Regions from separate parts of the Homo sapiens genome. Here region 2 is linked to region 1. The links come from fine-mapping of genetic effects on gene expression. A gene starts in region 1. The other region holds a variant in brackets. All regions are shown on one strand. Distances are between the middles of the regions.

What was found. PIP is the estimated chance that this variant, and not a neighbour inherited with it, causes the effect. A credible set is the group of variants that fine-mapping cannot tell apart.
Region 2: its variant is the best candidate, but not a certain one, in a credible set for the expression of PLXNB1 in whole blood (TOPMed, PIP 0.71).

What each region holds. Positions count from the first base shown.
Region 1 is chr3:48,428,359-48,432,533 of GRCh38, reverse strand. It overlaps PLXNB1 (plexin B1), which reads left to right and starts at 2,448. Exons shown (of 38, transcript NM_001130082.3): 1 at 2,448-2,526. CCDC51 (coiled-coil domain containing 51) reads left to right here. Exons shown (of 4, transcript NM_001256964.2): 4 at 1-361. The coding sequence ends at 126. RefSeq lists enhancers at 1-147, 1,501-2,494 and silencers at 2,735-3,334, 3,415-3,494.
Region 2 is chr3:48,499,254-48,503,428 of GRCh38, reverse strand. It overlaps SHISA5 (shisa family member 5), which reads left to right. Exons shown (of 6, transcript NM_016479.6): 2 at 2,136-2,292. Among named protein-coding and RNA genes, the nearest start is that of SHISA5, 2.8 kb to the left of the region's middle. The variant G/A (reference allele first, on the strand shown) is at 2,317.

The DNA of each region.
Region 1 (4,175 bases):
CTGTCAGACACGGAGCAGAGACTAGAAGCCCAAGTCAACAGGAACACCATCTATAGCACCCTGGTCACCTGTGTGACATTTGTGGCCACACTGCCTGTGCTCTACATGCTATTCAAAGCCAGCTAACCCCTGGCCCCTCCTCCAGAGGGTCTGAGGCAATAGCTGTGAATGTGGATTTAAGTAGAGAATCGTAGCAATGAAGCGAGCCTTTGGGGGCATGTACAACCTCAATCTGAAGGAGCAGTATCTGTGTGGCTCACCAGCAGGCATGCTTCGCTTTGTAGACAAGGTTCATTTACATTAATTATCAAAACTTTGTGCTAATGTCCAATTAAAATATCCTGAGTTTTATTATTTAAAACAATCAGACTGAGTTTTTTTCATTAAGAATCAAGATCCAAGACTTGAAGGTTGGGCCTGGAGTTGGGGTAGTCACCCCCTTTAGTTCCTCTCTCATCTCCTCTCTGTCCTCTTTTCTGAACTGTTATGGATGCACTCCTGAGGCCTAGATTTTCATTTTGGATTTCCTCCAGTTACCTGACTGTCCGGTGTCAGATGGCCTGGGAGTTCCAGTGAGTGGAACCTAGCCTGCTGCCTACTCATTTCGTGACCATGGTTGCTTCCCATCTCCTGGATCACTTTCTCTACCATGTGGGGGAGAACTTCCTGGTTCTAGTACTGGAGGAGTGATCAGAGGAGAGCAGGGAAGGGAGATTGGGAGAATGGTTGATAAATGTTGCTGGGGACATAAGTATAGGGATTGGTGGCCAGTCTGGATCCCTGGTACAGAGATTGCTTTGGGCAGCAGTGGTGTGCCACGGGGGCTGGGTGCACACCCCCACACAGCCCGGGGATATCTTCCACAGGCATAGGCAGAGCTCAGGACACCGGGAGTGTGCATGGAGAGGCAGTGATAGGGAGGGGGGGGTCTCCCACAGGTGGGAGGTGCAGTGGGGCATATGTATGATCTCTTTTCAGAGGGGAACAGTGACCCTTGACCTTGACTAAATGGCCATGGGTGGCCTTGTGTGCCCTGAGTAAACAGGAGCTTTGGGCTGGTATTCAGTCCTGGTGTTGGAGTATTGGAAGTCAGGCACATTCCAGAGAACCCACTCCCCTTTGAGAGCGCAGGGTAGCTATATGCAGGGGGGCCGCAGGTGGGGACTCGTTCACTGGTGCCTGTGCAGAGCTCTCAGAGCCTGTGGAGTCAGGAGTGTTTCCCATAAGGCATACTTTCTTCTTGGAGCCTGTGTTCAGTCTTGGGCAGTGAGCATGGCCCAAATGCCCCCCACCCCAGGTTCTCAGCACCTGGTCCCTCAGTCAATCTATCCTTGGCGAGTAATGGCTCCCCAGAATGGCATGGGATGGAAAGACCCCTGTGCTTAGAGTGTTCACATTCCTTGTAGGGCAGGAGGTAGCGTATCTGTGTACAGATGAAAGGGGTTGTGGGGTTTGGAAGTCCCAGTTTCCTCTGGGGTGAGATAGGTCCTGAAGTGTGTGCTTGGATGAATGGATTTGGGGAGGGAGGGATTCTGTGCATGTGGAGGGGGCTGCTACAAGCTACATAGGCAGGAAAGCCAAAGTGGGTGAGGGACTGGGGCAGACTGTCCTGGCTGGGGTGGTGATGGGTGTGGGGGAGTTGTGCAGAATGATGTCACAGGCCCGGGGTGCCAGGTTGGCAGTCTGAGGTCAGAGGCTAAGGGTGAGGGATCCAGGGAGGGATTGCTATGCTGGTGCAGACAAGGTGCTAAGCACCTGGACTCAGGTGCTGGAAGTGGGAGTGGAGGAAAAGGGGTGACCTGACAGGAGACCCTTGATAGCTGGTGGGAGGTGGGAAGAGGGTGTCTCTAGCTCTAGGGCAGTAGCCAGTGTGGATGACCTGAACCTCCTGATTGAGGCTCCCCTAGCCTGTGGAGGCCTTGGAGGCTTTCAGATGATGCCTGTGACGTTTTTGCCTCCCAGGAAGCTGTGCCAATGGCTTTGAGCCAAAGTCCTCCAAAAGTCCTAATAGGATGGGCCAGGTTCTGGTCCTGAGTTAGCCGTGGGCATGCCAGGGTGTGAAGGGCCCTGCACAGGGTACAAATGGTCCCCAGGAGAGAACCTTTCTGCCAGCGTTTCCTCCCGCAGAAGGCCCAGGTGTTTGCCAGTGAGGGAGCCCAGACTTGCCCAACGCTTCTCAGCTTGGGGTGGGTCCAGGTCTGGGTCCTGGGCTGGGAAGAAAGGAAGGAAGTGAGCCCTTGCTTGTGCGCCTCTGCAGCCCAGGTTCCCTGCCTTCACAGCCCCGCTAGAGGTGGGATCACCCCCACTTACTGGTGAGCAAATAGGCTGGGGGGGGTTGGTGTCAGGTTACATGGTTTAGTTGATGGCGCAAGCCCAGGTCCAAAGCCCATGCTCTTCTCAAACAGCCAGAGGTGGGGGCCGGAAGGAGGGATTGGCTGTTGGGGAGTAGTGGGAGCAGGGGCGGTGAGCAGGGGCGGTGGGCAGGGCCAGGTGCGCAGGGGAGAAACAAGGCGCCTTGGAGTTCAGGTAAAGAAAGTTGGGGAGGATGACCACCGGAGCCGGGTAAGGAAGGGAAAGGGAGCTCCGGGCGCGGGGCGAGGCCGGGCGCTGGCAGAAGAACGGGTCGGGCTGGTGAGGGACTCGGGTGCTACCCGGCTCTGGACGGGCGGGAAGAGGCCGGGACGCTGTTCCACCAGCACCTGCGGGTGCGGAGCGCGACCCCCCGCCTCGGCTCCTGGCAACCAGGAAAGTTCCCAGTTCCGGTTCCAAGGAGGCGAGCAGGTGAGGCCGACGGGGCGGGGCGGCTCTGGCTCCCGGGGTTCACTCCTCACCCCTCCGGGCGACCCGCGTTGCCATGGCGACCGCCGCGGTGCAGCCCGCCCCCGCCCTCCCCCGTGCGGGAGGGGTCGGGTCCCCAGCCCTCGGCCGATGCGGAGCCCGCGGGGCTGGAATGCGGGGTCCCGGGCGGTTCGGGGCCGCGCGCCCGGCTCTCCGGGCTGCTTCCGGCCTGGCCCGGGCGGCGGGCGGGGGGAGGGCAGCCCGGCAGGCGAGGGGGAAGGAGCGGAGACGAGCCCGGCCGACGCGGCTTTGTCTCCTTTGTTCCCGGCGGTGGCAGCGCCGCGCGGGAGGGGCGGGCAGCGGGCGCAGTTTTCCGCCCCTCGGTCTCCGGGTAACAGCTGCGGCTCCGCCAGACCCGGGGAGAGGCCGCTGCGCGCGGAGCCCGAGCCCGGAGCGGCCGACGCCCGCCTCGGCGCGCACATCCCGCGGGGCCCGGCCGGGTGGTGAGTGCGGGGCTCGGGGCCAGGGCGGCGAGGAACGGGGCTCCCGAGGTGGAACGGGCCGGGGCCCCGATCCCGCCGGGCAGGGGCGGCCTGGGTGAGTGGTGGGCGGCTTTGGTTTTGAGAGTTGGGACCACACTTCTCCGCGCGAAGGGAAACTCTGGCGACTCCGCCTGGAACGCGATTGGGAGACTGAGGAGGTGGAGCTGCTCCTCCGCGCCCCCTCCTCGCCGTCGCCGCCGGGGACCGGCCGGCCCCTTCCCCGCCCTCCCAGGGCCAGTGATGGGGTCCTCGCCTCGGGGTCTGGGGGTTGGGGAGGGTCAAGGACGAGCCGAGTGGGGAGGTCGGGGCTTCCCCTCAGTAGTAACAGCCCTTTCTGGCTGCTCCCGGTGGGACTGACAAAGGCGGACCTCGAGCCTCCTGACCCCCGGGCGGGTGGGGGGGACCCTCCTCTCCACACACAGACATATTAAGTGGGTGATCGATGAGCGCCTTGGGTCATCGCAGGTGCCTGGTAAATGGTGGATCTCCCCACCCCTCCTCAACACACAGAAAACAGGGCGGGCAGCGGGCACCACTGCACTGTCAATGAATAACTCACCTCTGTAGTGAACCCTGGGAGCTGAGCAGGAGGGTGAAACGGGAAGGCCGGTTTCCCACTAACTGGCAGGCAAGGCAAATGTGGGCTGTCCTATGGCCCCTCTGCAGGTGCGGAATGGCGGGGTTTGTGAGCCCCTTTTGTTGTCGAGGACAGCTCCACGGGGGTCCGGGAGGTGCTTGCTCTACAGACAGAAGTTGGGCAGTCTTGCGCCCCCTGAAAAGGTTCAGAGTAGGGTGGCCCCAGAAGAGACTCCAGGGCATGTGTGGGGGAGCACTGGGCACAGGCAGAGTTAGGCT
Region 2 (4,175 bases), 71 kb before region 1:
AAGACCCTTTTGGGGTGGGTGGCTTCGTGGAGGGGAAGGCTGTATTTCCTGGGGGCTGGGATGAATCCAGAGGACCTGGGCTAGAGAAATGAGAAAGGGGAGACTTGTGCCCAGAATCCGCCCACTCCTGGAGTGAGCCTGTAGGAGGGTCGGTCACTGATTCAGTGAGGTCTGGGGGTCAGAGAGCATTTGTGCCATGGACTCAGCCTAAACAGCCTCACCGGTGTGTCTTCAGCCCTAGCTCAGAGGCTCAGATTGGGCTGTGAAGACCTTGCTGCATATGGGTTCACCTGAGCCACCAGGCACGGGCCATGCTGATGATACCAGCTTTCAGGTGGGCAGCTGGCCAAACTGGGCTTGTCAATGGTCCAATCCTCTGCTCCATGGCTTTGCCCAGAGCAGGGTTCTGCCTGGAGCTGCCAAGAAGTGCAGTTCCCCCCAACTCCCCACTAAAGTTCCCTCTTCCCAAGGAGGTCACTTGGTGTCTCTGTCTCTGGGCTTCACTCTACTGACAGCCTCGGGGTGTGTGGTGTCCTGATCAGGCCCGGGCACCAGATGCTGCACATGGCCAGGTGCCTGGCCTGGCTGGGTCTCCAGAGGCCACGTGCTATGGCAGACTGTTTCCAGGCCGATGTAGTTATGCCTCAGGGCTATCATCAGACCTGTCCCCTGCCTACTGCGGACTTGTGGGCCTTGCTGGACTAGGTATTCTCTTTGGAGTCTGCCCTGGCAGAATCCGGTACTGTTCCTTCCTGTTAGTGGGCACAGGTCTCTGCTAATGTAGCCTGAGGATACATGGGAACATTTGACTGTAGCATCTTCCTGGAGGTTTGTAAACCTTGTGGTCATCCAAAAACCTGGGTTATTTTCCACATTTGTTGTCAGCCAGATCCCCTCAGCATGACCTCGTTTATTGAGACTTGTAAGGATGTCAGTAGATCCCAACTCTGTGCTGAGAGTCTTGTGATGGCTCCAGGGCTACAGATGGTGCCACTGCCTTGGAGCCCTGTTGCCCAGGCTGGTCTCAAACTCCTGGAAGGCACAGACATTTCCTGGACACCTGCTGCAGGCCCAGCGCGGGGCTAAGTGCTTTATGAACGCTGGTATGGTGGGTGTGACAATTTCTGACCAGGATCTAGCCTGCCATCATGGTTATGGGGTGGTCTGTGAGAGCCAGGCCCCTGCAGTTGTGGTGCCCAGCAGGGGCTGAGGTTGCTGTGGTTGAGTGAGGGAGAGAGTGAACGAGGATTAAGAACTAGACAGTCTGGCTGGGGTGCGGTGGCTCATGCCTGTAATTTCAGCACTTTGGAGGCCAAGATGGGTGGATCACCTGAGGTCAGGAGTTCAAGACCAGCCTGGCCAACATGGCGAAACTCTGTCTGTACTAAAAAATACAAAAAATTAGCTGGGCCTGGTGGCAGGCACCTGTAATCCCAGCTACTCGGGAAGCTGAGGCAGGAAAATTGCTTGGATCTGGGAGGCAGAGATTGCAGTGAGCTGAGATCGCACCACTGCACTCCAGCCTGGGCAACAGAGTGAGACTCTGTCTCAAAAAAAAAAAAAAAAAAGAAAGAAAGGGACAGTCCAGTGTCTGGTCCCCTGCAGGTGTTGAGCTGTGTGACTTCTCGCCTGGGCAGCTTCTGGAGGAGGCCACCTGGAGTAGGGCCTTGAAGGATGAGTAGAGTTGAAAGGCAGGAGATAGGAACCAGGCAAGAATGTGAGCGGAGTGTGGACAGGTTGGAGAGCTGGAGTGATCTTCAGGACTCTGCAGTTTAGACCCTGCTTGGAAACTCGGGCCTTGATCCTGAAGCAGTGGGAATTAGGGGAGGTTTGAGAGCAGGGTGTGGCCCCATCAGACTCACATTGAGAAAGTTCACCCTCCTATCAGGAGGCCAGTGCACTGGTGAGGGAGAGAGGGAGCCCAGTTAGGGCAGCTCTGTTGTGGCCCGTGGGATAGGGCAAGGCTGAGGGGGAGCAGTGGCCAGGGGTCAGAAGGTGGCCTGTGGCTAGGGTGGCTCAGAGACGGTGCAGCATGTGTGTGTGTGTGTGGTCTGGTGGCTGTGCCAGGGAGGGCGCTGTGTCTGCTGGGGCCTGGCCCGTGGGCACAGGTGAACAGATGTGTTTCTCCTCTCCAGCACGTGGTGAGGTGTGTATGGCTTCCCGTGGACTCAGCCTCTTCCCCGAGTCCTGTCCAGATTTCTGCTGTGGTACCTGTGATGACCAATACTGCTGCTCTGACGTGCTGAAGAAATTTGTGTGGAGCGAGGAAAGGTGTGCTGTGCCTGAGGCCAGGTGGGTGCACCAGTGGGTCACAGG[G/A]TGGGTGGCTTGAGCCTGTGCCCCACAGGAGAGTATGTGGAAGAGAGATAGCTCTGCCCCTCTGGCCTCTCAGCCCTCTCAAGATGGTGGCCAGAGCATTGGAGCAGAGGGTTTAGGGATCCCCTGTTCTGGGCTGGACCCCCTAGACCTGCTCAGTTAGTCCCCTGTCCATCTCCTCCCTACCCTGAGGGCTCCAGCTTGCTGAGCCTTGGGCTGAGCAGGTTTCTTAGAGGTCCTTGGCCTCAGCTGGTCCTGTGACTCACCCCGGGTGTGTACCTGTGCCAAGATGTCCTCAGGGTGGGTACTTGGGCTTGACTATACCCCACAGTATGCGCATGCCCCTGAGGGGTATCCTTTGTTCAGAACCCGCTTGTGGAGCCTGTAGGGTGCAGTGCGTAAGCATGTGCCCCAGTGTGAGCTCTATCTGTGTCCTCCCAGCGCAGCCTATGAATTTACCTGCATGTTGGGTGTAGACTGTTTCATGGCTGGGACCAAGGTTCCAGGCCCCTGTGTGTGGCTCTTTGCCGTATTCTGTATTTCCTTTGTGTTTGGCCTCGGTGTAGAGGGTTGAGATGGTCATACTCCTCTGCTCATGGCAGGTGATCATCCTGGGTCTGGGCAAGACCAACCCCCGCTATCTTACATATTTATTTTTGTGAGATGGAGTCTCACCATGTTGCCCAGGCTGGTCTCATACTCCTGGGCTCAAGCCATCCTCCTCCCTCAGCCTCCTGAGTAGCTGGAACTATAGGTGTGCACCACCATGCCTGGCCTATATATTTACTTTAATATGTCAGGACCATTTCATTCCTTTCCCACCCCACAGGCAACCGTCTGCTATGGTCTGCTATGTATAAGGTACATCCTTTTCATTATTTGAGTTCTTGCAAAGTCGGTGTAGTGTAAGACCTAGCCACATTGCTGTGGCACATCTGGCCCTTGCCCACTACTGCTGTGTCCCTCTGAATGGTGTGAATCCACAATGGTTGTCATGATAGATAGCTTCAGTGGGCATCTGGTATACCTCCTTTTATGGAGCTGTGTAAGAATTCTCTTGGAAACACATCTGGTTGTGGAGTTGCCATGTCATAGATGCACACAGTTATCCACTAAGGACTTCCAGGTGCTCTTGGGAGTGGTGCACAGGGCTGCACACCTGTCAGTCCTGCCTGAGGGTTCCTGACAGGTCTTCTTCTACCCTTTCACCCTTTCACTTCACCTTTTGGCTTTTTTTTTTTTTTTTTTTTTGAGACGGAGTCTCACTTCTGTTGCCCAGGTTGGAGTGCAATAATGTGATCTCGGCTCACCGCAACCTCCGCCTCCCGGGTTCAAGCAATTCTCCTGCCTCAGCCTCCCGAGTAGCTGGGATTATAGGCGTGCACCACCACACCTGGCTAATTTTTGTATTTTTGTATTTTTTTTTTTTTAGACAGAGTCTCGCTCTGTCACCCAGGCTGCAGGCTGGAATGTGGTGGTGCGATCTTGGCTCACTGCAAGCTCCGCCTCCCAGGTTCACGCCATTCTCCTACCTCAGCCTCCCAAGTAGCTGGAACTACAGGCGCCCGCCACCACGCCCGGCCTAATTTTTGTATTTTTACTAGAGATGGGGTTTCACCATGTTCACCAAGCTGGTCTTGAACTCCTGACCTCAGGTGATCTGCCCATCTTGGCCTGCCAAAGTGCTGGGATAACAGGCATGAGCCACCGCGCCTGATGGTATTTCTTTTTTTAAAAGCAGGAGCATTTATTCCATTTAAATTTAATGTAGAGGGCCGGGGGTTGCTGTGGCTCATGCCTGTAAGCCCAGTACTTTGGGAAGCTGAGGTAGGAGGATCACTTGAACCTAGCAGGTTGAGACT